Linked DNA regions of Homo sapiens. The protein of the gene in region 2 interacts with the protein of the main gene of each other region in a biochemical or structural test. Each region holds a gene or a part of one and is shown on either strand. Other genes may lie near its edges.

The links.
Region 1: the proteins of GRAP2 (region 2) and KHDRBS1 form a complex in vitro, tested with the Homo sapiens proteins (one study listed by BioGRID).
Region 3: the proteins of GRAP2 (region 2) and CCNDBP1 form a complex in vitro, tested with the Homo sapiens proteins (one study listed by BioGRID).
Region 4: the proteins of GRAP2 (region 2) and RACK1 form a complex in vitro, tested with the Homo sapiens proteins (one study listed by BioGRID).
Region 5: the proteins of GRAP2 (region 2) and CSF1R form a complex in vitro, tested with the Homo sapiens proteins (one study listed by BioGRID).
Region 6: the proteins of GRAP2 (region 2) and ERBB2 form a complex in vitro, tested with the Homo sapiens proteins (2 studies listed by BioGRID and IntAct, with this or other methods).
Region 7: the proteins of GRAP2 (region 2) and SOS2 form a complex in vitro, tested with the Homo sapiens proteins (one study listed by BioGRID).

Annotation. Positions count from the first base shown.
Region 1 is NC_000001.11:32,030,254-32,035,012, reverse strand, and holds part of KHDRBS1 (KH domain-containing, RNA-binding, signal transduction-associated protein 1), read right to left. Parts: intron 4,716-4,759; coding exon 4,591-4,715; intron 3,490-4,590; coding exon 3,373-3,489; intron 1,826-3,372; coding exon 1,679-1,825; intron 1-1,678. UniProt on the Homo sapiens protein: Recruited and tyrosine phosphorylated by several receptor systems, for example the T-cell, leptin and insulin receptors. Once phosphorylated, functions as an adapter protein in signal transduction cascades by binding to SH2 and SH3 domain-containing proteins.
Region 2 is NC_000022.11:39,952,581-39,957,339, forward strand, and holds part of GRAP2 (GRB2-related adapter protein 2), read left to right. Parts: intron 1-3,238; coding exon 3,239-3,330; intron 3,331-4,759. UniProt on the Homo sapiens protein: Interacts with SLP-76 to regulate NF-AT activation. Binds to tyrosine-phosphorylated shc.
Region 3 is NC_000015.10:43,191,903-43,196,661, forward strand, and holds part of CCNDBP1 (cyclin-D1-binding protein 1), read left to right. Parts: intron 1-840; coding exon 841-901; intron 902-2,512; coding exon 2,513-2,559; intron 2,560-2,824; coding exon 2,825-2,939; 3' UTR 2,940-4,759. UniProt on the Homo sapiens protein: May negatively regulate cell cycle progression. May act at least in part via inhibition of the cyclin-D1/CDK4 complex, thereby preventing phosphorylation of RB1 and blocking E2F-dependent transcription.
Region 4 is NC_000005.10:181,237,843-181,241,356, reverse strand, and holds part of RACK1 (small ribosomal subunit protein RACK1), read left to right. Parts: intron 1-1,774; coding exon 1,775-1,870; intron 1,871-2,179; coding exon 2,180-2,290; intron 2,291-3,117; coding exon 3,118-3,258; intron 3,259-3,514. UniProt on the Homo sapiens protein: Scaffolding protein involved in the recruitment, assembly and/or regulation of a variety of signaling molecules. Interacts with a wide variety of proteins and plays a role in many cellular processes.
Region 5 is NC_000005.10:150,076,555-150,080,054, forward strand, and holds part of CSF1R (macrophage colony-stimulating factor 1 receptor isoform a precursor), read right to left. Parts: coding exon 3,498-3,500; intron 1,695-3,497; coding exon 1,558-1,694; intron 882-1,557; coding exon 722-881; intron 1-721. UniProt on the Homo sapiens protein: Tyrosine-protein kinase that acts as a cell-surface receptor for CSF1 and IL34 and plays an essential role in the regulation of survival, proliferation and differentiation of hematopoietic precursor cells, especially mononuclear phagocytes, such as macrophages and monocytes.
Region 6 is NC_000017.11:39,710,062-39,714,820, reverse strand, and holds part of ERBB2 (receptor tyrosine-protein kinase erbB-2 isoform a precursor), read right to left. Parts: intron 4,736-4,759; coding exon 4,620-4,735; intron 4,482-4,619; coding exon 4,340-4,481; intron 2,894-4,339; coding exon 2,774-2,893; intron 2,500-2,773; coding exon 2,373-2,499; intron 1,669-2,372; coding exon of another isoform or gene 1,552-1,668; intron 1-1,551. UniProt on the Homo sapiens protein: Protein tyrosine kinase that is part of several cell surface receptor complexes, but that apparently needs a coreceptor for ligand binding. Essential component of a neuregulin-receptor complex, although neuregulins do not interact with it alone.
Region 7 is NC_000014.9:50,161,336-50,166,094, reverse strand, and holds part of SOS2 (son of sevenless homolog 2), read left to right. Parts: intron 1-4,485; coding exon 4,486-4,613; intron 4,614-4,759.

The DNA.
Region 1 (4,759 bases), on a different chromosome or scaffold from region 2:
TTCATGTTGAACATTCTTTTTTTTTTTTTTTTGAGACAGAGCCTCACTCTGTCACCCAGGCCAGAGTGCAGTGGCGCAATCTCGGCTCACTGCAAGCTCCGCCTCCCGGGTTCATACCATTCTCCTGCCCCAGCCTCCCGATTAGCTGGGACTACAGGCGCCTGCCACCACGCCCAGCTAATTTTTTTTTTGAATTTTTAGTAGAGACGGGGTTTCACCATGTTAGCCAGGATGGCCTTGATCTCCTGACCTCGTGATCCACCCGCCTCGGCCTTCCAAAATGCTGGGATTACAGGTGTGAGCCACCGCGCCCTGCCTCATGTTGAACATTCTAATGAAGATGAGGTACTTGAAAGCAAAGCAGCTGCTAAGACATTTGAGACTGTTGGAATCCTTGGAGTTCAGCATTATGGGTACACAATGCCTAAAAACTTATTTATTTATTTTTTTTGGAGATGGAGTTTCACTCTTGTTGCCCAGGCTGGAGTCCAATGGTGCAATCTCAGCTTACCGCAACCTCTGCCTCCTGGGTTCAAGTGATTCTCCCGCCTCAGCCTCCCTAGTAGCTGGGATTACAGGCATGTGCCACCACGCCCGGCTAATTTTGTATTTTTAATAGACAGGGTTTCTCCATGTTGGTCAGGCTGGTCTCGAACTCCCGACCTCAGGTGATCTGCCCTCCTCGGCCTCCCAAATTGCTGGGATTACAGGCGTGAGCCACCGTGCCTGGCCCACACTGCCTATAAATTTTTGCCCTATCAATTTTCACATCATCTGACACCACATTTAGTTCTAATTCCCTCATTTAACATTCAAGAAAACCAAGGACTGTATCTTACCTCCTCCTAGTTTTCTGATGAACACATGACGCTTACTCAATTCTACTTAATAATATTCCAAATCCTTCATAAGTCTCCAGATTCATCCTTGTTATTAAATATTCAACAGTAGTATGTTAACTCTGACAACCACCAGGCCTTGCTAAAAGGCAAAAATAGTACCATTTCCTATTTATTCAAAGTAATATTCCAACCAAGTATTCAAAGGTGGTAACAAGCAAGATAGATAAACTGGCCTGTCCCATCTCTATCTAGTCCTCAGTAATAGTCTGAAAAAAGCTGCTCACCTATCTGTTAAACATCAATAGTCAACCTCTTCCAAACTAAACTCGTCCTCAGCAAACTCCTCCAGGAAAGAAATCCCTGAGTGTGCTCAGGTCAGAATTTAACCCAATAACACTAGATGCTATAAGCTTCTTGCTGCTAGTCTCTACTCTCTACAGCATGAACTTCTTGAGTGCAGAGACCCACCTTAGTCACTTTCCTAACACAATCTCCTTGTTCCACACTACTACCAAAATACTCAGCTAGGTGAAGACCCTGTTAAACCTTAGTTAACCAAATATCAGAATGCAGGCACACTGTGGACCCGAGATACTGACAAGATACCGGTACACAATGAAAACCACATTAGACAAGGAGGGATAGAGTGGCCTTGGAGCATAATGCTTTGAGAACTAGGTGCAAGTAACGAACTACCTAAGGAAAATGAACATAAGTGCAGAATTTGGTATACATACAGGTTATGCAGAGACCTTAGTTAAGAACCCCTACCTTCACAACAGTATAAGATCCCAGTTCTCTTTTGCTCAGAAGACACAGGATATGGATTTCCTTACCGGTACTAGAAATTTCTTGACTTCCTCCATGGCATGGGCCATAAGAGCATAAGCCTCACATGGGGGTCCAAAGACTTCAATGAAGACATGCAGATCCATATTCAAGTGGGCATATTTGGGGTCTCCACCTTTGCGCAGCTCTTCCTCCTATGGAAAAATGCAGAGAAATGTCACACCATGGACTAGGGAGAAAACACCACCTTTACCTCTAAGCCAAAGGAACAGCAAGAAATACCCCTAATGTCCATGAAAAACAGTAAAGTTAATTGGTATGAGCTGAGAAGAATTAAACAAAAAAAGAAAAAAGAAAAAAGAAAAACAGTAAAGTTTAAGAAAGTAAAACAAGCAGCCAGGCGCGGTGGCTCACGCCTATAATCCCAGGACTTTGGGAGACTGACGCGGGAGGATCACAAGGTCAGGAGTTCGAGACCAGTCTGACCAATGTGATGAAGCCCCGTCTCTACTAAAAATACAAAAATTAGCCGGGCATGGTGGCGCACGCCTGTAATCCCAGCTACTCAGGAGGCTGAGGCAGGAGAATTGCTTGAACCCGTGAGGTGGAGGTTGCAGTGAGCCACTGCACTCCAGCCTGGGCAATAGAGCAAGGCTCCCTCTCAAGAAAAAAAAAAAAAGTAAAACAAACTCTCAAGAACAGTAATTTGCACAGCCTGCTAAACTTGCACATGGTCTGCTGCTTACAGTTAATTGTTGTCTTAAATCCCTGAGATATCCATTGGAGCTCCTACTAAAAGCATAAAGAAGAAAAACTTAATTCTAGTCTATTCAGATAATAGCTGTTTGCCAAGCATTTGTTTTTAAATCACAGGTAGAGCTGTTAATCACCACGAGCTCTGCTTATCTGCTTATATGGTCTAGGGAGTGGTAGGGGAAGAAAGAAGTCAGGACAGAGGGAAGAAAAGCTCATGTAAATCTCATTAGTTAGAACACACTTCAGCCGTAACTATATGCATCTAGCAAGAAATGACCTGAGAAAACAAACATGTGTCCATTAGACTACATAAAAGGAGGGTTGAAAGAATTGGTTTTTGGACTGTAGCAGGAATATCTCATCAAATAAGGTGACCCCAGAAGGCTAAGACTATTCTGTTTTGGTGAGAAGTTTCTTGTCACAGAGTACACAGCGTACGCGGCTATGGCATGGGGAAAAAAAAGACGCATTAGATTCTGTAGTCAGGATTACTCATGGTTCCTTTTGGAATACATTCTTTTAGTGAGCCTCACATTCCAAACCGGCTATAAAACAAACCAACTAATCCTCAAACTCATCTGCTCTCACATTATTGTTCTCACTTTTCCAGGTTACAAAAAAGGGGGTGTGCTATTTGCATTTTAGCGTCTTTTGTCTGCTTTAGACTAAATTTTAGTATATTCAGTTCCCCTTTCAAGTTTTCACAGACAATCCTACCAATGCGCAACATGCTACTGCTGTTTCCATTACTACACAGTCAAAAAGTCCAAAAGAAAACTATCACCAGGGCACACCTAGGCTCTTCCAGGGTTGCCAAGCCAAGTAAATTAACTTGGTGTATAATCTCTTGCATCCAGTGCAAACTTAAAGGAGCCACATTCTGTACACATACAAAATTCTTGCCGCCTCTATAAGACATCCATACTGCATTCTGGGCAAGTAGAAGGCATTAGGATGTCCTCTTGCCTCACTAATGTGAGCTTACCTTGGCTTTGTCTCTCATTGAGCCCTTTCCCAATACAGAGATCTTTGCACCAGTCTCTTCCTGCAGTCTTTTGATTGTATTCCCTTGTGGTCCAAGAATCTTCCCCACAAAATTGAACTGACAGAAAATAGAGGATTTCTAAATATACATGCTACTATATAAAAACATTTCCACATAAATTACCTCACTTGATTTTAAACAACCCTGCAAAGGTAGAGTATTACCATTCCCATTTTACTGAAGGACACTGAAGCCATATTAATAAAGTGATTAGCTTAAGGTTATGAAACTAGAAAGTGGCAGTTCCTAGACCTGAATTTGGCTTTTCTGATGTATTCTGGTGCTCTTCCATAATACATTAAGACCTTTACTATTTTATTTTTTACTTTATTTTGAGACAGGCTCTCACTCTGTTGCCCAGGCCAAAGTGTAGTGACACAATCATGGCTCATCACAGCCTCAACTTTCTGGACTCAAGTGATCCTCCTGCCCCAGCCTCCAGAGTAGCTGGGTACAGGTGCACACCACAACACCAGGCTAATTTTTGTATTTTTTGTAGAGATGGGGTTTCGCTATGTTGCTCAGGCTGGTCTTGAACTCCTGGGCTCAAGCAATCTGCCTGCATCGGCCTCCCAAAGTGCTGGCATTACAGGCATGAGCCACTGTGCCTGGCCCAGCACTTAACATACATCAACATTTTTAAGGCAGTGACCTCAGAACAGAAGAGACTATATAGCACCCTTTGATAACACGCTGGATAAACTAAATGTAACTAAATGCTTTCCTAAAAAAAAAAAAAGGAAGAAAAAAAGCATTTACTTAAAAGTAAACTTTTAGTAAGAAAATAAAATTAACTTCAACCAATTGAGGATTCATATTATATTTCCTTTTATTTAGATTTCAGGTTAGTCTTTTGACAAAGAGCAACTCTTCAGGTTTTAATTTTTTTTTCTTTGAACTTGTAGCCTGAGCAATCATTTGAGAAAGAAACTTTTTGATAATAAAAAGATGATTATATTTCCTTCCTGGCTATAGCTATGTTATTAGTTAAGAACTTAGATATTTCAACTCTCAGTAACAGGTACTACAAGCATGAAAGAGAAGCTTCACAGGCTTAAGTTTCTAAAGCATCACAATCCCCAGGAGTCTTTATTATAGCCCATGACTCTCTCATAACTATAAAGATAACTCAAAGATCCAAAGCACTTTTTGCCTTACCTTGGGATACTGCTTGACAGGTATCAGCACTCGCTCTTTCAGTTTCATGTTCTTATGAGAAAATAAATCCAAGTAATTCTCCTCATCATCCTTTTTTGAGTCTCCTTTCTGAATCTTCTCAATTTCTGAATAGGAAAAACAATTTATTTTTGCCCTGGTAAATAAATGC
Region 2 (4,759 bases):
CACACATACCCACATGTCCTTAGTGACACCAGCAGTCACATTTGATGTTAGAAACTATAAAGTTTTCTGTTCTCAGCAATCTCAAACTCAAATATGGGACACACTTTTATTCCTTCAGAATAAATGACTAAATTCAAAACATACACACATAATGCTTTAAAGAACGTATAAACCCTTCCATGTCCTATTCAGAGCTGGAGGCCTCCCTCATAAGAATACCACATTTGATGGAATTGTATTTTTTGAAAAGAGTCTACACTTTCTGAAGGACTTTCAGGTACCAGGGCTCATTTGATCCTCACATCAGCTCTGTGAGGTGCTAGGTGGCTATTATTATCTCCATTTTTCAAATGGCTGATTGACTTGGCCAAGATCACATATCTAGTGATGGAGCCAAGCTAGAAACCAGGTCTTCTCGTTCCCAACTCACAACACTGTCCCCTTCCTTCCACCTTGGAGTGATGTTAGAAATAGGTCATCATCTCCACTCAAGCACTTAGTTCTTTCCATTATCTTCCCATCTTCTTTTCTGGGAGAAAGAAGCCCAAGGGCCCTGTGACTTCAACTCCACCCACTTTCTGATGACTCTGAAACCCCAAGCCCCAACCTTAGCCTCTCTCCTGGGTCCAGACTGACATATCCAGCTGCTCCCTGAGCTTTTCTTCTTAGTTGAAGAATTCAACTCACAGTCACCCGCATGCAATCTGAAGCCCATGAGCCCTTTCTCAGCCCTGCCTCCTCTCATGTATCTTCTATTTCTGTAAAGCCGTCACCACCTACTCAGTCTCCCAAGCCAGAAATCCAGTGGCATCCCAGAGTCCTCCTCTCCCTTAGCTTCCAAGATTGGTCAAGAAATCCTGCCTGTTTGCTTCCTGAATTTCTCTAAAATATATCCTCACCTCCTCTTAGCCTAGGCCCTATCATCTCTTGACTGGAGGCCTGCGCTCATCTTCCTGCAGTTTTTCTGCCGACTTTAGCCTTGCAATCTATCTTCACATTCTGATCTCTGATACAGAGCTCTGTCGCTCTCTCGCTCTCTCTTAATTAGAGACAGAGTCTCTCTCTGTTGTCCAGGCTGTAGTACAGTGGTACAATCAGAGCTCACTACAGCCTTTAACTCCTGGGCTCACACCCTCCTCCCGCTTCAGCCTCCTGAGTAGCTGGGACTACAGGTGCGCTTCCACCACGCCTTGCTAAGTTTTATTTTTATTTTCATAGAGACAAGGTCTCGCTTTGTTGCCCAGGCTGGTCTCAAACTCCTGGGCTCAAGCGATCGTCCACTTGGGCCTCCCAAAGTGCTGGGATTACAGGCATGAGCCATCGCACCCAGCCAGAGCTCTTTCTGAACTCTAATTCTTACTGTTACTTCCCTGCTCAAAATCCTTTAAGGGCTCCCCCTACATTTCAAGATATTCACAGTCTACATTCCAGCCACCTGGAGGCATTTCATTCCCAGAACACACCACACCTCCTCAGAGCTGAAGGAGGAAGTCCATTGCCATCTGACTTGGCCTCAGTAACTCCTTTCGTTGCCAAGGCAAGTGGTCTCTCCTCTACATATGGATGCCTTTTCTATCTATTTCTGCTTTCTTCTTTATCATCACACTTCTATCAGTTAAGATATTTTCAGGAGCAAGAAACATAAACTAAAAATGGCTTAAACAATAACAAAGACTTGTAATTTCTCAAAGTCCAGAAGTAGGAAGGCTCCTGGGTATCATCTAATTCAGCGGTTCAGTGACATTATCAGAGTTCTTTCCATCTTTTGCTCTGCTATCCTTATTTAGAATTATTGTTCTAGTCTATATCAAAGACTTAAAAAAAATTTTTTTTTTGAGAGAGGCTTGCTCTGTTGCCCAGGCTGGAGTCCAGTGGCAAGATCACGGTTCACTGCAACCTTGCCTCCTGGGTTCAAGCAATTCTCCTGCCTCAGCCTCCCGAGTAGCTGGGATTACAGGCATGTGCCACCAGGCCCGGCTCCTTTTTGTATTTTTAGTAGAGATGGCATTTCACCATGATGGACAGGCTGGTCTCGAACTCCTGGCCTCAAGTGATCTATGTGCCTTGGCCTCTCAAAGTGCTGGGATTACAGGCGCGAGCCACCACACCTGGCCTCAGACTTTCAAAACATTCTCAGTGGCGGTGTCAAATATTTTGTCTTTTAATGGTGAATCTCATTTTTTGAGAAACCAGAAGCCACATACAGTCAAGTCTGGTGAGTAATATGAGTAACTGAGGTAGACAATAACATTTGGGGTCACAGTCAAAGTCAGGCCACAGAGTAACAAGACAGAACTTTTGGTTTTGTTTGGGATCTGGCTTTAAAAGCAAGTTTAGAAAAGGCATCCCAAGTATCTTGGGTTCCAGCCAAATATCTGTGAAATACACAGCATGTGAACACAAAGAGTTACTGTTTCCAAAGCTGGCCCCACTGGGATGTTTAAGTTTTAATCTGCCTGTTTAAAAAACAATAACAAATTGAATTTTTGAAAAGTTTCCTGGGCCTGGTGGCTCACGCCTGTAATCCCAGCACTTTGGGAGGCCAAGGCAGGTGGATCACTAGGTCAAAGGATCAAGACAGTCCCGGCCAATATGGTAAAACCCCGTCTCTCCTAAAAATATGAAAAATTAGCCAGGTGTAGTGGCGCATGCCTGTAATCCCAGCTACTCAGGAGGCTGAGGCAGGGGGATCGCTTGAACCCAGGAGGTGGAGGTTGCAGTGAGCTGAGATCCCGCCACTGCACTCCAGCCTGGCGACAGAGCAAGACTCTGTCTCAAAAAAACGAAAAACAACAACAAAAAAAAGAGAAAAGTTTCCTGGTTACCTGGAAGAGAAAAAAAAAAATACACCGTGGAGTAACCATTCTTCCTTCTCACCATCTGCTGAGATGAGGAACTTAAGGTGCTAACTGGGACAAATGAATTTCCAAAATAGAAAAAGGGATTCAGGGAAGTCCTTGAGTGCTGAATTTGGGAGGCCAAGCCACAGTGGGGTGACATGAGTGGACGGCACAAGTGGACAGAAATAACCTGGGGTCAGGAGAAGCTGACTCCAAAGGTAAACCCACGGCTCCTCCACAGGCCTGGGGTAAATCCTAGAACAGCTGTTGAGTTCTTTCAACTTATTAACATATTTTCCTCTAAGTCCAAAAGGGCCTTCTTTGCCTGGCAGCCCCTTTCTCTTGTTTTTTTGGTGTCCTCCCTCCAATGTCTTTGTCTTTCCTTTTCTTCCATGTAGATTTTAAGTAACCAAGAGGAGTGGTTTAAGGCGGAGCTTGGGAGCCAGGAAGGATATGTGCCCAAGAATTTCATAGACATCCAGTTTCCCAAGTAAGTATCTGCAGCCTGCTGAGATGGGCCTAGCCACACACACTCCTCTTACATTTCCAGCAGTCACTACAGTTATCCATGGGAACCCAAGACATTGTCAAAAATGGCTGCCTCTGGAGCTCTCTCCGGAGAGCCTCCAGAGCATGCAGCTGAAGGCCAGGGCAGGAGGGAGACTTTGCATTTCATTTCATTCCCTTTTGATGTTTACACCATGTGCATGTATTGCTATTTTAAGTTGTTCTTAACTTTTTTTTTTTTTTTTTGGGAGTTGGGGTCTCCCTCTGTCACCCAGGCTGGAGTGCGGTGACTCCATCACCACTCACTGCAGCCTAAAACTCCTGGGCTCAAGCCATCCTCTCACCTCAGCCTCCCAAGTAGCTGGGATTACAGGCACATGCCACCACGCCAGGCTAGTTTTTGTATTTTTAGTAGAGACAGGGTTTTACCATGTTGGCCAGGCTGGTCCCAAACTCCTGACCTCAAGTGATCTGCCGCCTCAGCCTCCCAAAGTGCTGGGATTACAGGCGTGAACCACCATGCCTGGCCTATTTTAAGTTTTGGGTTTTTTTGGGTTTTTTTATTCATGTGTTTATTTGTTTTGAGACAGAACCTTGCTCTGTTGCCCAGGCTGGAGTGCAGTGGCATGATCTCGGCTCATTGCAATTCTCCTGCCTCAGCCTCCCTAGTAGCTGGGATTACAGGTGCATGCCACCACACCCAGCTAACTTTTGTATTTTTAGTAGAGATGGGGTTTCACCATGATGGACAGGCTGGTCTCAAACTCTTGACCTCAGGTGATCCACCCGCCTCGGCCTCCCAAAGTGCTGGGATTACAGGTGTGAGCCACTGCACCCGGCCTATTTTAAGTTTTTATAAAATGAGTTTGTAAACTCAAATTATCTATAGTGATTTCAATCACGGCGTTCCCCAGAATTCCAAAGGGGACGCTATTGGCCACCCCACTTCGGGAGCTGCTCTCCTAAGCGCTTCTCTGTGACCTCCTAATCCTAACCATCCTCACCAGGCTCTCACCCTTCACTCAGTGGGTGGACAGACACTCCCTGCCTTCAGTAAAGCATGCTCACCCCAATGAGAGAAGTCAGCGGGGGGAAGGGGAAATTCTCTTCCTAAAGAGGAAATGAAAAATTGAGATTGGGCTTCGTTTGTCTCAAGAATTGACCACAAGGGTTAGATAGAAATCTAATCTTGCCTCAGAACCAGGGTCTAGCTCAAAGAGCAAAAGCTTGTTAGAAAACCACAGTAGTATTGGTGACTCCAGCAAGGTGCAAGAGCACCAGTCTTGGTAAACCTGAACTGACCACCAAACCAAGAGAATGACCACTGACCTTGACGGAACCCTTGATGCTGCCCAGGAATCTGCTAGGTGACCTCTGCATACCCCACGTGCTCCTCAAACCTTCAGCCCCTC
Region 3 (4,759 bases), on a different chromosome or scaffold from region 2:
TATTCCAGAATGTTTTGAGAGTAAATTGCAGACAGCAATGACATTTCACCCCTAAATACTTCAGTATGTATCTCCTGAAGTACTCTTATTCCTACTCTTATTATCACATCCAAGAAATTTGACATTGAATATAATAGTATTATCTAATATTCAGATTTCCCCAGTTGTCTGTATCTAAAATGTCATATAAATTCAGGGTTCTGTCAAGGTCCCACATTGCATTTAATTGTCATCTCTTTAGTCTCTTGAAATCTAGAACAGTTCCTATCCTTTGTAGTCTTTTTTAATCAACATTTTAAAAAGAAACCAGGACAGTTGTCTTGTAAAATATCCAACAACCTGGATTCACGTGATTGTTAGTTCTCATTTTTGCAAGAATATCATATAATTAAGTGTTTTGTACATCTCATTTTATCATATTAGGGAGGCACATGATGTTGGTTTGCCTCATTATTGGTGGTACTAAATTTGATCACTTAAAGTGGTGCTCACTTTAGTAAAGGTATATTTTACTCTAATTTTAGCTTCCACTGATGAAGGCTGCCTGCCTATATTAGTTATTAAACTGATGGTTTCACATCCTCACATTTTTGACTGAATTGATCATGCACCCTACTATGAACCAAGGGAATTTCCCCCCCAGCTTCCTAGTGAAATGGGGTATGGTTGTTTCAATAAAGACTGGTTGAACTCATTCTGTATTGGTTGCCCAGTTGCCCAATTTTAAAAACTGACAGGCATTTCTGGGACAGTTTCTCACTGTTGACATCCATAGTTGTGTACTAGAAACAACCTGGCTGCGTTTTTTTGTTAATGATTACTTTTGTTTTCTGCTCTTAGTGTGGATGATTTGGCTCTGAGCATATATCCACCTATGTGTCACCTGACCGTGCGAATCAATGTAAGTACTGGCTTTGAGGGAATAGCTACAGAACAAATGGGCAGAATTTCACTAATCACTAGTATTTCCTGTAAGCTATAGGGTACATATTTATTAGTCACATTTGGATGGAAGTACAACAGTAATGTCACAGTTCTTGCATGCGTTTGGGGTTGATAAATATTCACTGAAGTTGAATTATAATAGCCATGAGCTTTGGTAGTTCTCTCTTCCATAATCACCTGGGTAATCATTCAGAAAAGCCCAAAGGCCTTAGAAAATGATGCTTTAAGGCTGGGCGCGGTAGCTCACACCTGTAATCCCAGCACTCCAGGAGGCGGAGGTCAGGAGTTGAGACCAGCCTGGCCAACATGGCGAAACCTTGTCTCTACTAAGAATACAAAAATTAGCCGGGCATCATGCACCTATAATCCCAGCTACTTGGAAGGCTTAAGCAGGAGAATCGCTTGAAGCCGGGAAGTGGAGGTTGCAGTGAGCCGACATCGCGCCACTGCACTCCAGCCTGAGCAACAGAGCAAGACTCTGTCTCAAAAAAAAAAAAAAAAAAAAAAAAAAAAAAAAAGCTTCTTTGAAAAGAAAGTCTTAATTACACGGTAATTTAGGAACTTCTCAACTTGAAGTCACAAGTTTCTAATTTCTAGACTAGGCAGCAATTAGATTGAACTTCAGCTGTTCATGAAGTAGCTGGCTGAGGTCACATGTTTCTGATTTCTAGACAAGGCAGAAATAAGTGTTCCAGAAACATACTCTGTTCTAATACAAACACATTGTGTGATTTAACTATGGAGAGTCAACTTTCTTATAAAAATCTGATTTTATTGTATTCTTTGAGGTTCTGTGCCCTTTACTAGAGAGAGTTCTGTTCTCTCTAATGTTATTGGAAAGAGCAGTAAAACTGCCAAATGGCTTATATTTTACAATTGAATGTATCAATTCTAGTAATATTTGATAAATTGGATAATGGAAATTAGATTCATCAGATGTGTCTTCATGATGTATAAACACCTTGAAGTAGAATAGGATCCTTTTGGGCATTAACATTTTTTTGGCATTAACTTTTAAAAAATTGACTTCCTAAGAAATAAACATTTTTAGCAATATGCCTAGTCAGCTATCCCAAACATAGTATCTGCTCTAGCAATTTTAAAATGTGTACTGCATATGCATCTTATATGTATTGATATTTTATATTAAACGTCTCCATCTTATCCTTATATTGGTGTTCTTAAAATTCTTAATGCGCTTTTTTTTTTTTTTTTTTTTTTTTTTTTTTAAAGGAACCTTAGTCATTTCTGCTTTATATTTTGAGCTATCAGCATTTGGGACCAATTCAGGTTACATTTTCCTTTTTCTGTCCTTTTTTAAATTGAAAATATTTTAGATCTAAAAAATCTTATTAAAATGTTATAGCAATAGTATTAATAAGATCTTGCTAAATAGAAAAGAACCCGTAATCCTGCCACCCTAACCTAATCAGCATTTTAAATTTTGCATACTTCCTTCAGGTCCTTTTTCTAAATAATTTTTTTATTACTTGGGTCTTTAAAAATATTTGAACTCACCTTTTTATGGTAGGGCTCAGGGTGAATAACTTCTGTGTTTCTTTTCTAGTCTGCGAAACTTGTATCTGTTTTAAAGAAGGCACTTGAAATTACAAAGTAAGTATGAAGACTTCTCAGATAGCTTTTTGTGAGTAAAACGGAACTGCTGTCCAGACGTTCTCAACTCCCTAGCTCCCATTTCAAGGAGTGGGAAAGGGTGGGTGTGGGATTTTCTTTCAGCTTCAGTTGTGGGGCAGCTGAGATTCTGCAAAGAAGCTTCCCTTTAAAAAAATTTTAGTTTTCCCTGTGCTCCCTCCTGAGGATAGGTTTTCCCTTGACATCCTAATAAGTTTAACTTACTTCTTTCCTATTCTATTCACAGAGCAAGTCATGTGACCCCTCAGCCAGAAGATAGTTGGATCCCTTTACTTATTAATGCCATTGATCATTGCATGAATAGAATCAAGGAGCTCACTCAGAGTGAACTTGAATTATGACTTTTCAGGCTCATTTGTACTCTCTTCCCCTCTCATCGTCATGGTCAGGCTCTGATACCTGCTTTTAAAATGGAGCTAGAATGCTTGCTGGATTGAAAGGGAGTGCCTATCTATATTTAGCAAGAGACACTATTACCAAAGATTGTTGGTTAGGCCAGATTGACACCTATTTATAAACCATATGCGTATATTTTTCTGTGCTATATATGAAAAATAATTGCATGATTTCTCATTCCTGAGTCATTTCTCAGAGATTCCTAGGAAAGCTGCCTTATTCTCTTTTTGCAGTAAAGTATGTTGTTTTCATTGTAAAGATGTTGATGGTCTCAATAAAATGCTAACTTGCCAGTGATTAAATGAGTGCCCTTCCAAAGTTTCTTTTTACCAGAAATACAGTGGATTGAGACTAGAACATTGCTTTCATTTGGGTTTGTAGGTTTAAAAATCTGATTCTAATCAGAAGTATATTTAGAACAAAACACTTTATTTATAAAAGATGACTCCAAAATTCATCTTAGTATTTCACCATGTTATATATTATTATCAGCAAGTCCTTCTGAATATTATCACAGATTACTCCATGTCTCTAAAATATATTGGCATTGAGCTCATTTGTTAGGTTTGCCCACCTTATTGAACAGATTTATTTTCCTTATACATACTTGTGTTGTCCTTGGTTACGTGTGTCCCCAAATGTAAATACCAAATTTTTATAAATCAAAAATTTTTTAGTGTGTAAGAGATTTTATGTAATTTTAAGGGCCTTTTCAGTTCATCCTTTTGCAAAACCATCACCACTTAATTATACTTTTGCATCAGTCTAGAAGACTGCATATTGGAAAGCAGTGTAAATCTATAATGATGTATATTCTGGTGAGCTGAATAGGGCATTATGCATGTCCTACAGGTCTCCGCCACCTCTCATGCCCATCATCTTCCTTTTGTAGGTGTAATTCATAACATATGCCTTTCTGCTGTCTTTAGGTATAATCAGCAACAGCAGTCATTCTTTGAGTGACTAATGTATACTTGGGGTTGGGGTTGAAATTCCTTAAGCCAAATGAGTTTTAGCTTACTGTTTTGAAGTGCCATTTTGTATTGTTAACAAGTGTCATGAAGGGAAGGAACTAAAATCAAACTGACAGAGTGTCAAGGCAACAAAATAACATAAACAAAATAATAACATTGTACAACAGTCTAGTTCTTTTATCCTTTCATATAGAGCCTATTTTTTATATACTTTTATATTTCTCTACTGGACCAAATTCATGTTATTAACATCAGACTTTAATTGTGGGATACTTAATGAATATAGAACTCTAATATAAAGACTTACCTCTAGCTGAATTATTCTCTCAGGTCCTGTATTGTATAACTTCGTTCAGTCATGTTTGGATCTTTAAGGATAATGATCAGGGAAAGCACTGATCAATGTAATTTTTTTTTTTTTTTTTTTTTTTTTGAGATGGAGTCTTGCTCTGTCCCCCAAGCTGGAGTGCAGTGGCACACTCTCGGCTCACTGCAACCTCCGCCTCCCAGGTTCTCAAGCAATTCTCTGGCTTCAGCCTCTCAAGTAGCTGGGACTACAGATGCACACCACCATGTCCAGCTAATTTTTGTATTTTTAGTAGAGATGGGGTTTCACCATGTTGGCCAGGCTGGTCTCAAACTCCTGACCTCAGGTGATCTGCCCACGTCAGCCTCCCAAAGTGCTGGGATTACAGATGTGAGCCACCGAGCCCAGCTTGATCAATGTAATTTTAAGATTACCTAAAAATTCCATTTTGGGATAATATCCCACTTCATCAGAAATATTAGAA
Region 4 (3,514 bases), on a different chromosome or scaffold from region 2:
CCGGGCTCAAGGGATTCTGGTGCCTCAGTCTCCCGAGTAGCTGGTACTACAGGTGCGCAGCCACCACGCCTAGCTAATTTTTTGTGTTTTAGTAGAGACAGGGTTTCACCATGTTGCCCAGGGTGGTCTCAAACTCCTGGGCTCAGGCGATTTGCCTGCCTCGCCCTCCCAAAGTGTTGGGATTACAGGCGTGAGCCCCCACCTGCCTATCTTTGCCTTTTTTTTTTTTTTTCTCGGAGACAGTTTCGCTTGTTCCCCAGGCTGAAGTACAATGGCGTGATCTCGGCTGACCACAACCTCCGCCTCCTGGGTTCAAGCAGTTCTCCTGCCTCAGCCTCCCAAGTAGCTGGGATTAGAGGCATGCGCCACCATGCCCGGTTTTGTATTTTTAGTAGAGACAGGGTTTCTCCATGTTGGTCAGGCTGGTCTTGAACTCCCAACCTCAGGTGATCTGCCCGCCTCAGCCTCCCAAAGTGCTGGGATTATAAGCGTGAGCCACCGTCCCCCGCTTTCTTTGCCTTTTTAAAGTCTTGTCTGGGCTGGGCTCACGCCTGTAATCCTAGCTCTCTGGTAGGCCAAGGTGGGAGGACTGCTTGAGGACAGGAGAGCAGCCTGGCCAACATAGTGAGACCCCATCTATTTAAACAAAATTTTATTTATTTTTTTTCTTTTTTGAGATGGATTCTGGGCTAGATCGCAGATTTGGGATCGCAGATTGGGGGCTGGATCGGGGATTTGGGGATGGGTGGGGGGCGGTGAAAAGGTGAAAGGGAGTTGCCGCAGCTCAGAAGCCGATGGTTGGGTGTCTGAGAAGATTACAGGCGTGTGCCATCATGCCCAGCTAATTTTTGTATTTTTAGTAGAGATGGGGTTTCACCATGTTGGCCAGGCTGGTCTCAAACTCCTGACCTCAGGTGATCCGCCCGCCTCAGCCTCCCAAACTGCTGTGATAACAGGCGTGAGTCACCGTGCCCGGCCTTATCACTACTATTTTGTTTTGTTTTGAGACAGTCTCATTCTGTCGCCCAGGCTGGAGTGCAGTAGTGCGATCTCGGCTCACTGCAAGCTCTGCTTCCCGGGTTCACGCCATTCTCCTGCCTCAGCCTCCCGAGTCGCTGGGACTACAGGCGCCTGCCATCAGGTCTGGCTAATTTTTTGTATTTTTAGTAGAGACAGGGTTTCACCATGTTAGCCAAGATGGTCTTGATCTCCTGACCTCATGATCCATCCACCTTGGCTTCCTAAAGTGCTGGGATTACAGGCGTGAGCCACCACACCAGGCCCTATTATTATTATTATATTTTTTTTGGAGATGAAGTTTCACTTGTTCGTTGCCCAGGCTGGAGTGCAATGGCACAATCTTGGCTCATTGCACCCTTCGCTTCCTGGGTTTAAGCAGTGTTCCTGCCTGAGCCTCCCCAGTAGCTGGGATTACAGGCACCCGCCGCCACACCTGGTTAATTTTTGTATTTTTGGTAGAGACAGGGTTTCACCATTTTGGCCAGGCTGGTCTCAAACTCCTGACCTCAGGTGATCCACTTACCTCGCCCTCCCTGGGATTAGAGGCGTGAGCTTCTGCGTCCAGCCACCATCTCTAAATTTTTAAAAAATTTTCTTGTCTGGAATCTAAAGGGATTCTATTGAGCTTAAAGGTTTGGGTTCTTGGTTTTTGAAAGGTGCTGCCAGCCATCATCCTACTGAGGGGTAGGGCTGGGAGGTCTAGCATTTCATGGGATAGGACTGTTTGCCCTAATTTCCTTTCCATCTTCTGTAGGATGAGAGCCACTCAGAGTGGGTGTCTTGTGTCCGCTTCTCGCCCAACAGCAGCAACCCTATCATCGTCTCCTGTGGCTGGGACAAGCTGGTCAAGGTGAGCGTCAAGCCAAGGCAGGGGCTTTACCAGTCAGGGTGTGCTCCCAGGTGGTCATACACTCCAAGTCCTGTGGAAAGCTTTGCAGATGCCCTCAGTTGACTCTTTCTCTTGTCACATGGTCTGATGTCCCTTGTAAGTCAGCACACTGCATTGGATATGTGTTATAATCTAACGTGAAGTGGCCAGGACATGTTACTGAATGAGAAATGGCTACCGTATCCAGAAGTGCCAAGCCCTTTTTTGTTGGGCCTGACCCTAGCTCATCAAGAGCTAGGATGTTCACCTGTCAACCGCACGTCTATGCAGGTATGGAACCTGGCTAACTGCAAGCTGAAGACCAACCACATTGGCCACACAGGCTATCTGAACACGGTGACTGTCTCTCCAGATGGATCCCTCTGTGCTTCTGGAGGCAAGGTATTTGGGGACAAGGCGTCTCCTACTCAGTGGAAGACAGCGTCATGGAAGGAGCACTTAGCCAGCGTCTCTAACGTAAAATGGCAAACATTAGCCAAGATGGTTTTAGGAGGATAATGAGATAATGGCAATCTGAGAATATGTTTCCAAAGATTACTTTCAGCAAATGACAGTTAAGGCATACTATCTGGAAGAAAAAGATGATTTTCTATAAGCCTGTGGGTTTTTTTTGTTGTTTTTTTGTTTGTTTGTTTTTTGTTTTTTTTTTGAGACGGAGTCTCACTCGGCTGCCAAGGCTGGAGTGCAGTGGCGCGATCTCGGCTCACTGCAACCATCTCCCGGGTTCAAGCAATTCTCCCATCTCAGCCTCCCGAGTAGCTAGGATTACAGGCACCCGCCATCACTCCTGGGTAATTTTTGTATGTTAGTAGAGAGGATTTTACCATGTTGGCCAGGCTGGTCTTGAACTCCTGACCTCAGGTGATCCGCCCACCTCGGCTTCCCAAAGTGCTGGGATTACAGGCATGAGCCACCGCACCCAGCCTAAAGTTGGTTTCTTGAAGCAGTTGATGAGATTGGGATCCTGGTTTTCAGAAATGATTGGAGTGATTTATGTAAGTTGGGAGGGGTTTTTTGATGGGGTTGGTAAGGTCTTACGTTAAAGGAAAGGTATACAGAGATAAATATTGGTACTTGAGTCATTAGCTTTCAAAGAAGCCTGGGGTAATGGAGGAAAGGTAAGAATTGATTCTGACAGAATCTTGAGATGGGCAGAATTAACATCTGGAAGAGGTCACAGTGTCCTGATTTACCTTACCTGTGTCCAGGATGGCCAGGCCATGTTATGGGATCTCAACGAAGGCAAACACCTTTACACGCTAGATGGTGGGGACATCATCAACGCCCTGTGCTTCAGCCCTAACCGCTACTGGCTGTGTGCTGCCACAGGCCCCAGCATCAAGATCTGGGTGAGTGTGGGTTACAATTGACTGGGTACCTGGCTGCACTCTGAGCCCTGGCAATGTTTTGGTTATTATATATGCCATCTGACTCCCACCTGGGAGCTAAGCTTTCTCAGCCTCCACGTAATGACATTTTGGTCTGAGTAACTCTGTTGTGGTGTGCAGTCCTGTACATTCCAGGATGTTTAGCAGCATTTCCAGCTTCTACTAGATGTCAGTAGCAAACCATCCTTCCACTAGTGGCAACTGAAAATGCATGTAG
Region 5 (3,500 bases), on a different chromosome or scaffold from region 2:
CCATCACTCTCCTCTTTACAATGACCTCCCAATAGGTTAAGATGCAGTTATTCTTTCTCACTTTAAGACACCTTTACCTCCGGCTTCTGCCACCTCCTCTGCTCCCCTGTGGCCACTCCTCACACCACTCCACATCCCAGCTGTTGTCAAGTTCTTTCAGTGTTCCAAATGATCTATGTTCTCTTTGCCTTTGAGCCTTGCATATGTTCCTCCCTCTGCCAGAAGCGCTGTTCCCCTTCCTTTCCCACCCTTCTGCCCGGCCAACTCACCTTCATTCTTCCCATCCCAGTTTAGAGGCCACCTTCTCGAAGCCTGGGTTGGGGGGACTCTTCAGTGTTCCCAGGACACCTTGTGCTTCCCCCATAATCACTGGGTGATCATTGTCTTTTCATGTTTCCATAAAGGAATGCATGAAAGAATGAACAAATGAAGTCCAGTAGGGAGCTACTGGACCCCAATCCCCAAATAAACAAAAAATGGCACTAAGGTGCACCCAATGCAGCCATGCACTGTAAGAGCTCCAAGATGGGAGAGAGATCCCAGGAGAGGGTAAGGGAAAGCTCCTGGAGAGTGGCTCCTTAGCCAGGCCTTGGATAAACAAACTCCAGCAGAGATATCCTCAGCAGGTCTCCTTCCCTGACATCAGCTTCCTCCTCAAAACCCTTCTGCTCACACTCCTGCAGGATCCCTACCGACTGTCCACCACCACCCTGATGCTTACCTACCACCCGGAAGAACATGGAGGTGGAGTGCTTGCCCTGCACGTTGCTGGCCACGCAGGAGTAGTTGCCGGCATGTTGGAAATCTACTTGATCGAGGTTGAGGGTCAGGACTTTTTGGTAACGGTTATTATGAAAGTCAGATTGTTGAGGGATTGCGAGCTGCAGCCAGAAGGAATGGAGATGTTATACCAAGGTAGTTTAGGGATTAGAAAGATCTGGGTTCCAATCCTCAGCCTTTAAGGATTACTATCTGCCTTTCCTCTGAGCCTGTTGCTTCACTTGTAAAATGGGGCTAATACTGGCTCCCTGCCCCAAGACTGTAGTGAGGAGTAAATGAGATATGCATGCAAGTGGCTTAGGGCTGTGTCTGGAACACGGCAGGTGCAGTGGGAAGGGAGGGGGCTCTTAGAGGCAGCCCAACGTGAGTCCCTCCTGGAATCCTCCCTCCTCCTCCCTCTCTCCCAATGTCTTTCTGAAATAGCTGTTATATTCCTGGGCTTCAATGGTGGCCTAGGAAACCCTTGCTAAATCAGAAGTGAGCTCACCTCTGGCTTTTGTCTAAAGGCTGGGGCAAAGGCCATGTGTCAAGGTGACAGAGAACCACCTCCCCCCACCCACCCCCACAAAGTTCAGCGGCACAAGCATGAGTCCTGATTCTGTGTCAGCTACTGACTGGGAGTGAGATCTCGGGTGAGTCTGCACCCCTCTCTGGAGTCTGAGCTGTGCCTTCAGCTAAGACAGCCAGTTTGGAGTTGGGGGCCCAGGACTCCACCATGGGAAACCTGGTGTGCTGGGAGGATGGCCAGACTTCACCTTGTGATCTGCAGGGACTGACCTTGGTGTTGTTGTGTTGGAGGAAGACATCAAAGTTAACATCAACGCTGCTGGCTGAGCACACGATCTGGGCAGCCTCCCCTCGAATCCGCACCAGCTCTGCAGGCACCAGTGTCAAGGCTGGGGGCCCTGGGATGACTGAGACCGGGGGAGAGACCCCTGAACACCCAGGCTCCCTGAACATGATAGAGATATTGCTCTCCTCCCTGCCATGGGCCAGGACACACAGGCCAGGGTCCCCATCACTGCCCCATCCCAAATCCTGGGAGGCAGCCTTGATGCTCCCAGTCCCCCCACTGCAAGGCCTGTCCTAAAGAGACCTTGGAAAGTCTACTTTCTCCATCACCTCTACCCCTCCCCAGTCCCGTCACCATTCTCCACTCTGGACTTCTGCACCAGCCTCCTCAGAGACCTCCCTGCCTCCCTCCAAGCCCCCCACACCTAGATTCTTCACTAAAGTGACCTCTTACAAATATAAATGGGACCATGCCTCTCTCCTCTGTAAACATTTGGGGCTTCCCATTACTCTCAGAAAAGAAGTCAAAGTCCTTCCACAGCCCAACCTGTTTCTGACCGCCCTGATAACCCCACCCCTTGTTCACTGCACTGCAGCCCGCTGGACCTCTTTCCTACCACAGGGCCTTTGCACCCACCTTTCCCTCCTGGAATGCCTTTCCTCCCACACTTCAAATGGGAGGCTGTTCTCATCCTTCAGATCTTTAGCTCAAAAATTCCTCAGCAAGGCTTCTGTGACCAGCTGATATGAATTAGCCTCCCCAGCACCTCCATGCCCGCCACTCCCCAGCTTGGTTTCTTGCTCATCACATTTGTATTTACTTTCTATTTAATAGTTAGACTCTAGTCGAATGTCAAATCCGTGACAGGAATATTCCAGCAGCCAGCAAGATGCCTGATGCACAGTAGGCCTTGAATTCATATTTATGCCCATTGCTGCTGTTGAAAGATAATCTAATCCAGATTCCTAAGGCCCAGGGACATGAAAGGACTCACCCAAGGTCCCTGAGGGGGTGTCAAGGCAGAACTAGGGCCCAGGACCTTTGGCTCTTGGCCAGCCCAGGGCTCTGCAGGATGAAATGCCAGGAAAGAGCCCTAATGGCCTCCTCTGCCCACACAGCTGGGGTCCTTTGACCCCCTGGGCAGGTTTAGTGGCTTCAGATCCCAGTGGCATTGGGCTAGCTGCTTCACTCTGACCCTGGCCCTTGTTACAGGGACTGATTGCTGTCTCAAGCCCAGGTCCTCAGGCTGGGGTCCTGCTTGCTCTCACCAGTCCTCCCAGAAACCAGAATCCTGCCTGCCATCCCAGCAGGGTGAGACTCCACCTCCACTGTTACCTGGCCACCGCGAGAGCCATCACACGCACCCACCATCTCCTCCCTGCCTCTTGGCTCAGCATCCCTCCTACACATGCCCAGCACTTGGCCTTAGGCAGGCCCCCAGTGGGAAATCCATGTCTGAGGCTGAGCTTCCGTCCTCTTTCCATACCTAGAACATTCAGAGCCTGTCCCCACCTCACCACTTGGTACTCACTGTCCCCCTGCTGAAGCAGATCTTTGCACAGCCACCTTCTTCATGTCATTCAGATTTCCGCTCTAATAAAGTGTTTCCTTCTCAGTGAGGCTCCCCGCCCTACACACTCCTTATTCAGCTACCATGTTGAATGTTTATTTTTGTAGCATGTCCAATGACTTGAGATGACCTTGCCCACTGAGTTATTTGCTCACATGTGGTTTGTCTCCCTGCCCCGACACCTTGTCAGTCCTGCCCCATAGATGATCGTGGAACCATTGAGGGGAAGAAGTGAAAGAAAGAGGACATCCCACTGCCCCCCATCACACCCAGTCCCCAGTCACCACCCATGTGGCCGCCGGCTCTCTGTCCCCACTCTTCAGGCCTGGCTGCCGGTCCCCATGCCCCACGCACCTT
Region 6 (4,759 bases), on a different chromosome or scaffold from region 2:
ACCAGCCTGGCGATAAAGCGAGACTCTGTCTCAAAAAAAAAAAAAAAAGAAAAGAAATCTTATTTCTAGGAATGTGGCCTAGGGAGACACTGGCCCATGTTCCCAGAGCCACACACAAAGTGGAACTGTTTGTAAGAGTGAAAATGGAACATGATCTAAATGTCTATTAGTAAATAGGGGAGCTGTTAAATAAAACCCCGAGCCACCCAGCCACATAATAAAAACCAACATTTAGGAGCACCTAGTATCTGCCAGGCACTGTTCTAAGAGCTTTACAAATATTAACTCATTCAAACTTTATAATCATCTGGCCAGGCATGGTGGTATAACCATCTTATGAAGTTGGGACTGTTCTTGCCCCCACTTTACAGATGAAGAAACTGAGGCACAGCACAAGGGTCACATGCCTAGTAAGTGGTAGAGCCGGGTTTCAAACCCAGGCAGTCTGGCTCCCAAGTCTGGGCTCTTAGCTGCCTCTCCTTGCCGCCACCTGCTCTGCAGCTATTGAAAGAACAAGGCAGTTCAATGGGAACTGTCATGACCGGCTCTCAAAGCAAGGTGCAGACAGTGCTCCCTATATGTTCCCATTTACAGAAACCAACCTCCCCACCAAAACGACGAAAACCACACTTCACTGTGTGTGTGTCTACAGATGCATAAACGGTCTAGGTGAACACACACACTGTTAACCATGGCCCCCTCTGGAAAGGGGAGTGGAGGTAAAGGAAGTGTGAAAGGGAATTTTTTTTTTTTTTTTTTTTTTGAGACAGGGTCTCATTCTGTCACCCAGGCTGGAGTACAGTGACATGATTTCAACCCACTGCAACCTCCACCTCCCAGGCTCAGGTGATTCTCCCACCTCAGTCTCCCTAGTAGCTGAGACTACAGGTGCGTACCACCATGCCCGGCTAATTTTTTGTGTTTTTTTGTAGAGATGGGATCTCACTATGTTGCCCACGCTGTTCTTGAATTCCTGGGCTCAAGCAATCTTCCTGCTTCAGCCTCCCAAAGTGCTGGGATTACAGGTGTGCACCACGGCGCCTGACCCTTTTTTTTTTTTTTCTTTTTGAGACAGGGTCTCACTCTGTCGCCCAGGCTGGAGTGCAATAGCGAAATCTCAGCTCACTACAACCTCCACCTCCCGAGTTCATGCAATTCTCCTGCCTCAGCCTCCCAAGTAGCTGGGATGATAGGCGCATGCCAGGAAGCCTGGCTAATTTTTTATATTTTTTAGTAGAGATGGGGTTTCACCATGTTGGCCAGGCTGGTCTTGAACTCCTGACCTCAAGTGATCTGCCTGCCTCGGCCTCCCAAAGTGCTGGGATTACAGGCGTGAGCCACCGTGCCTGGCCCCAATTCATTTCTTATTGAAGTATAACTTATATACAATAAAATGCACCGGGTGTGGTGGCTCATGCCTGTAATCCCAGCACTTTGGGAGGCTGAGGTGGGCGGATCACGACGTCAAGAGATCGAGACCATCCTTGCCAACATGGTGAAACCCCATCTCTATTAAAAATACAAAAATTAGCTGGGCATGGTGGCACACACCTGTAGTCCCAGCTACTCAGGAGACTGAGGCAGGAGAATTGCTTGAATCCAGGAGGCAGAGGTTGCAGTGAGCCAAGATCGTACCACTGCACTCCAGCCTGCTGACAGAGTGAGACTCTATCTCAAAAAATAAAATGAAATAAATAAAATGCACAGACTCTTATCACACAGTTTGATGAGTTTTGACAAATGGATTCGCTCATGTATCCACTACCCCAATCACTATACAGAGCATTTCTATTACCCCAGAAATGTCCTTGTGTGCCTCCCTTTTGAAGCCCCCCACCCTGGGGCAACCACCGTTCTGATCTCTCCCACCACAGAGTGGTTTTTTCGGTTCAGAGCCTCACATAAAGGGGATCAGACAGTATGGAATCTTGTCTCTGGCTTCTTTTGCTCAATGTAATGTTTCTGAGATTCATTTATGTTGTATCGGTAGTTCATTTCCTTTGGTTGCTAAGTAGAACTTCACCAAATGGATACACTGCCACTTGTTTATTCCTTCACCTAGTGATGCACATTTGAGTTATTTCCAATTTGGGGATATTTTGAATAAAGCTGCTATGAACTCAAAGGGAATTTTACTTTATCTAGATGGTCTGACCTCCATACAAGTCCTTGTTCACGGATAGCATGTCATTTACAAAAATAATCACCCCCACCCACCAAAGGCCCTGCTCCTCTGGTCTCCCATCTGCTTTCTTTGCATTCTTGATCCCCCCACTTCTGTCTCCTGCCATCCCCAAGAGATGCTGCCACATCTGGATCCTCAGGACTCTGTCTGCCCTGACACTGTCTCAGGTCATCGTGCCCACTCTTACCCATCAAAGCTCTCCGGCAGAAATGCCAGGCTCCCAAAGATCTTCTTGCAGCCAGCAAACTCCTGGATATTGGCACTGGTAACTGCCCTCACCTCTCGCAAGTGCTCCATGCCCAGACCATAGCACACTGAGGAGGTGGGGGTGGGTGGGGAAGGGGCCGTCTCAGCCTTCATACCGGGACAGGTCAACAGCCACATGAGCATCAGGGTCCGGGCCCCTCCCCACACTGACAGGGGATATAGGGACACTTGTAGGGCTGAGGGGGGCCAGGGGTAGAGAGTAGAAGGCAGAGACTAGGTCCCAAGAGGGTCTGAGGAAGGATAGGACAGGGTGGGCTGGGCCAGGCTGCATGCGCAGAGGGACAGGAACTGCAGCTGGCCTCGGGGGCAGTGAGTGGGTACCTCGGGCACAGGGCTTGCTGCACTTCTCACACCGCTGTGTTCCATCCTCTGCTGTCACCTCTTGGTTGTGCAGGGGGCAGACGAGGGTGCAGGATCCCACGTCCGTAGAAAGGTAGTTGTCTAAGGAGATCAGGAACATGTAGCCACATACCCTGGCCCTTCGTGCACCACCATGAGCAGCATTACCGTGCCCAGGCACAAGAAGAATAATATCAACCAATACTTAAATGCCCTACCACGCATCAGCACCTGACATCCATTTACCCCTCACAACAACCAGACGGGATCAGCACTGTGAGATTCCCATTTTGCAAAAAGGGAGACCAAAGCAGAGAGTTCTGTAAATTATTCAAGGTCATTGTGCTAGTGAGTGGAGGAGCGAGGATTTGAACCCAAATGGTCTGGCTCTACATTTTGTCCTCTCCCTAACACAGTCAGCCAGGATCTGAAGGCCCACTCCTGTTCCTGTGAGAGGAGGAAAGAGGTTCCCCAGGTCTGAGCCCAGTCCATAAACGCCCATCAGTAAATAGGTGATCTGTTAAATAAAACTGAGCTAGGCCAGGCACGATGGCTCATGCCTGTAATCCCAGCACTTTGGGAGACCAAGGCGGGTGGATCACTTGAGGTCAGGAGTTCGAGACCAGCTTGGCCAACATAGTGAAACTCCGTCTCTACTAAAAATACAAAAATTACCCAGCCATGGTGGTGCATGCCTGTAGTTCCACCTACTCAAGAGTCTGAGGCACAAGAATTGCTTGAATGCGGAAGGCAGAGGTTGCAGTGAGCCAAAATTGCACCACTGCACTCCAGCCTGGGCAATGGAGCGAGACTCTGCCAAAAAAAAAAAAGTCCGGGTGCAGTGGCTCACGCCTGTAATCCCAGCACTTTCAGAGGCCGAGGCAGGTGGATCGCCTGAAGTCAGGAGTTCGAGACCAGTCTGGCCAACGTGGTGAAACCCTGTCTCTACTAAAAATACAAAATTTAGCGAGGCATGGTGGTGGGCGCCTGTAATCCCAGCTACTCAGGAGGCTGAGACACGAGAATAGCACGAACCTGGGAGGCGGAGGTTGCAGTGAGCCGAGATCGCGCCACTGCGATAGAGCTAACTAAATTCGGTCTCAAAAACAAAACGAAAGGTAAAACTGACCTCACCAGGCTATAGAATAAAAGCTAACATTTAGGAGCACTTAGTACATACCAGGCACCGTTCTAAGAGCTTTACAAATATTAACTCTTTCAAATGTTATAACCATCTTATGCAGTTGGGACTATTCTTGCCCCCATTTTACTGATGAGGAAACTGAGGCACAGCAAGAGGGTCACGTGCCTACTAATTGATAGAGCTGGGTTTCAAACCCAGGCAGTCTGGCTCCCAAGTCTGGGCTCTTAGCTGCCTCTCCTTACTGCCACCTGCTCCACAGCTGTTGAAAGAACAAGGCAGCTCGGCAGGAACTGTCATGACCAGCTCTCAAAGCAAGATGCAGACAGTGCTCCCCATATGCTCCCATTTACAGAAACAAACCTCCCCACCAAAATGAGAAAACTGTGTTTCTCCCTGGCACTCACAGGGACAGGCAGTCACACAGCTGGCGCCGAATGTATACCGGCCCTCGGGATTGGGCATGGACTCAAACGTGTCTGTGTTGTAGGTGACCAGGGCTGGGCAGTGCAGCTCACAGATGCCACTGTGGTTGAAGTGGAGGCAGGCCTGGGGGGACAGGTGGCTGGCTTTCACTGTGCTGTTTTGCCCTGGTGTGCCAGGGGCAATAGGGCAGTACCAGGCAGGGTGCCCACCCCTTGCATCCTGGGGGGTAGAGCACATTGGGCACAAAGCAGAGGCACATACCAGGCAGTCAGAGTGCTTGGGGCCCGTGCAGCCGGCAGCACACTGCTCATGGCAGCAGTCAGTGGGCAGTGGCCCCTTGCAGCGGGCACAGCCACCGGCACAGACAGTGCGCGTCACTGTTGGGCAAAGGGCAGGATGAG
Region 7 (4,759 bases), on a different chromosome or scaffold from region 2:
GTTTGTTTTCAACATAGAAAGAATCCCTTTCAACTCAGTGGTCATCAGATTTAGACACAGACCAGTGTTTTGCGTAGCTGTGTCTGGTGTCATGGTAGAGCCACGGGGTATTAGTGTAGCAAAAAAGCAGAGACTTTGGGGTCAGAGCTCCTGGGTTTGGATATAAACTCTCCTATTTATATTGGGCAAATTACTTAATTTCTCTGTGCCTCATTTCCTTCATCTGTAACATATGATTATAGTACCTCGTGTTACAGAGTTGTAATAAAAATTAAATAAGCTAATGCATAAAAGAGCGTGCACAGAGCAGAGCTCAAAAAACATTCATTATTGGTCTAAATACTTAACAAAATCATACAGTAGTCATTTATTCCAGTTACTTCTGACAACCACCTAGTGGATACCTACCACATGCAGGTAAACTGAAAAGGAATAAAACGTGTCCCTAGGCATTAAGATGTTTACAATTTAGTGAAGAAAATAGATGTCAAACAAATAATTACAATATTATAAGAGCCTAATAGAGGTAGTACTATGAGATCAATGAAGCAGGAGTTACTAGCTCTGCTTAGGGAAGGCAGAAAAAAATTCCTATTGATTTTTCCTTTGTTCAGTGGAGTAAAAAAAAATACATAATGGTTTTGGGTATTCGTCCTACTGAGAGAGAGAACAGTGTGTGCGCGGGTGTGTGTGTCCTTATTTATTTGCGGGAGTCATGAAAGACAAATGCTTAGGAACTCTCCAGAATAAAAGAGACAATAGAAACATGACAATTTAGTGCTTCACTGACCAGTTCCTGTTTTGGGGGAAAATATTACCTTAAAGGATGTTATTAAAACAGTTGGCAAAATTGGAATATACACTATAGATTAGATTATGCAGTAGATTACTCGGTGTTAAATTTCCTGAAGTTGATCACTATACTGTGATTCTGTAAAAGAAAATCCTTGTTGTAAGATGAGCTATGAGAAATATTAAAGGAGTAAAGGAGAATGATACTATTTGAGAGTAATTTGTGATACATTTGACTTTTCCTTATATTCCAAAAACTACTGCAAAACCATTCAGCCGTAGTCCCCCTTCCTCTGGAAGGAACTGAGTGGATAGTATCACAACTACTAAAAAAACGATCTGCACACACTGGCACACAGAATGATGAAGCATGTGACAAAATGTTAAAAATTGGTGATTCAGAGTATTACAGGAGTTATTTGTGTTACTTTTACAACTTTTCTATAAATTTGATATTTCAAAAGAAAAAATTTAAGAGGGAAAAGGCATAATCAGAAGGCATCTTCAAGAGGAAGCATTTCAACTGTATCCTAGTGGCTAAATTCACCGGGTGGATAAGGAGGTCAGAGACTGTTGTGTAGAAAGCGAATGGGGGCATGAAAGTACATTACTTGTTTGCACATAGTTCAGTACAGTAATTTTTCTTTTCTTTTTCTTTCTTTTTTTTTTTTGGAGACAGAATCTCGCCTTATCACCCAGGCTGGAGTGCAGTGGTGCTATCTTGGCTTACTGCAATCTCCACCTCCTAGGTTCAAGTGATTCTCATGCCTCAGCCTCCTGAGTAGCTGGGATTACAGGCATGCACCACCACGTCCAGCTAATTTTTTTTTGTATTTTTTATTTTTATTTTCATTTTTTTGCGGGGGACAGAGTCTCACTCTGTCACCCAGACTGGAGTGTAATGGCACAATCTCAGCTCACTGTATTCTCTACCTCCCATGCTTAGGTCATCCTCTCACCTCAGCCTCCCAAATAGCTGGGACTACATGTGCACATCACCACGCCCGGCTAATTTTTGTATTTTTTGTAGAGACAAGGTTTCTCCGTGTGGTCAGGCTGGTCTTGAACTCCTGGGCTCAAGTGATCTGCCCGCCTTGGCCTCCCAGTATGTTGGGATTACAAGTGTGAGCCACCTTGCCTGGCCCAGTAATTTCTGTGTAAGATGTTTGGAACACATTCTTTTAAGTATCTGTAGAATATTAGTTGGATATTCATTAATATGATGTTTATCAAATCTCACTGCTGAAAATTCAAGAAATATTTAGCAAATTATCAGATTATTATGCCAAACAGAGCCGTTGTTTAATATACTTCCATTACCAGGAAATCCCACTCTAAATATCCTCAATTTTGTTCTCCTTTACAGCTTATAATTATTACATGGTTATTTAAAAATGACACGTGGAAGAGTTTGAGCAGCCTTAAGACCAAGTAGACAATGAAAATCATACCTTTTTGGTAGGATATCACTACTGGTGATAATTTAGATATTTGGATAAACAAAAACAAGAATAAAACAGTTCTAATTAAGTGTTTGATGTCATCAACATTCATATTTATTAAAGAAATATTTTAGAGTGGAGCTGAGAAGACTTTCTGTAAGAAATCTTTAAAGCAGCAAAATAAGTGATTTTGCCAGTAACTTTCACCTGTAGAAGTCAGAATAACCAAGCACAGATCTTTTTTCAAACTTTCTATGATATTTTGACTTTGCTTCCATCCTTTCTATTGCTTAGTCTAGAGATTAAGGTATTACTTCTAATAATAGTCATTTACATTATTTATGTTGCTAATCTCTTGATGACAAGACCTCTACATGTGTCTTGAAATAAAATCAAATGGCTCTGTGCTTCATATAGAGACTAATTTCTAAGACATAAATAAAAGGTAATGGACAAAGTTGTCAAACAATAGCCAGTTAGTTCTTTGCTGAGGAAAGGGAACCATTGCTGAATGCTTTTGAGATTGCTCTTGGAATATAAGGAAAATTTTAATTTATCACAAAATCTCTAATAAGTTAAAGATCACAAAATAGATTTAAGTTTTTAAAAATTTTCTGAAGTGATCATAATTCCCCATATCCTTGCATAAATATATATTTATAAATACATAATATATATAATATCTATATGATGTTCCACTTTGAACTCTTCTTTCAAAAGATTAAAACAGTTTGAGGGCAGCCTGGGCAGCATAGTGAGACCCCATCTCTACAGAAAAATTAAAAAAAAAAATTAGCCAAGCATGGTGGCACACATCTGTAGTTCTAGCTACTTGGGAGGCTGAGATGGAAGGATCACTTGAGTCCAGGAGGTTGAGGCAAGGCTGCAGTGAGCCATGATCACCTCACCGTATTCCAGTTTGGGTGACAGAGTGAGACCCTGTCTCAAAAAAAAAAAAAAAAATCAAAACATTGGAGCACAATACAATACAATCTGAATTATTTATTATAAGTAAATTTGCTTTCTTTCTGAGAGTGAAATACAAGAGAACATTTTGGGGCAAATGAAATAGAACCAGAGTTTTAGAGATTAATAAGTCAGTTTCTAAATCTTCTAAAGATTGAGATAGAATTAATTTTCATGGTTTCTTGACATTTCATATTGTAAAAAATAGCAGTGGAATCCTTTGAGAGATGCTGTTTACGGAAAAGTTTATGATAGATTGAAGTGTTAAAAGTTAGTACCCTTGATTATGTTATATAACAAAGATTTGTAAACTTGAAATTGCTAAAACAAAGTAATCATTAGAGAATATGAAATAGTTTATAGTTACTTATTTTCTCTATTCATAGTTGCTAATGAATAAAAGTAAGTTGTAAGCTTCATGCTTTAGGTGTTTTAAACTTTTTAAATATGTTTGGAAAATGTGGCCTGGCACAGTGGCTCACACTTGTAATTTCAACACTTTGGGAGGCAGAGATGGGAGGATAGCTTGAGTCCAGGAGTTTGGGACCAGCCTAGTGAGACCCTATCTCTACAAAAAATAAAAATAAAAAAATTAGCTGGATGTGGTGGCATGCAACTGTGGTCCCAGCTACTCGGGAAGCCTTATGCCCAGGAGATCGAGGCTGCAGTTAGCCCTGCCACTGTATTCCACCCTTGGTGACGGAGTGAGTAAGACCCTGTCTCAAAAAAATAAAAAATAAAAATAAAATGTCCGAATGGTTTTTACAGTTGCTTTTTTTTTTCCTGATTACTATGCTCATGTTAGTTTATATCTGTATTGTGTTTATGTTTATAGAAAGAAGGTTGGGCCAGGACTGGTGGCTCATACCTGTAATCCCAGCACTTTGGGAGGCAGAGGCAGAAGGATAGCTTGAGCAGGTGTTCAAGACCAGCCTGGGAGACATAGCGAGACCCTGTCTCTACAGAAATTTTAAAAATTAGCTGGGTGTGGTGGCATTCGCCTGTGGTCTCAGCTACTTGAGAGGCTGAGAGTGGAGGATCATTAGAACCCAGGAGCTCAAGGCCACAGTGAGTGAGATCCTGTTTCAAAAAAAAAAAAAAAAAAGAAAGAAAAAGGGTTGGTTTGAGAGGGCAGTAGGTATATATAAAATTATAGCTGTTTTTATTAAGTATATATAAAATTAACTTAGAGTTGATAATATTTGTTGCTGCTTTTTCTATTACTAGAAAGTTGGGGGAAGAATCAAACAATGCAGTTTTGATTTTTCTTTCTGTTTTTTCTTAGCAATTGAAAGCATGTAGTGAAGAACAAGAAGACAGAGAATGTTTGAACCAAGCTATTACTGCTCTCATGAATCTCCAAGGTAGCATGGACCGAATTTACAAGCAGTATTCACCTAGACGTCGACCTGGGTAATTCCAAAGTGTTGAAAACGTGAATGCCTCTGCTTACTTCGCTGTCTCTGATGCCTGGTTTTCAAAGAAGTGTGATTTATTGTGATAGTTACATTATTGAAAGTTGTGCTTGTCATACTTTTATATACTTTTATGTTGGTCTT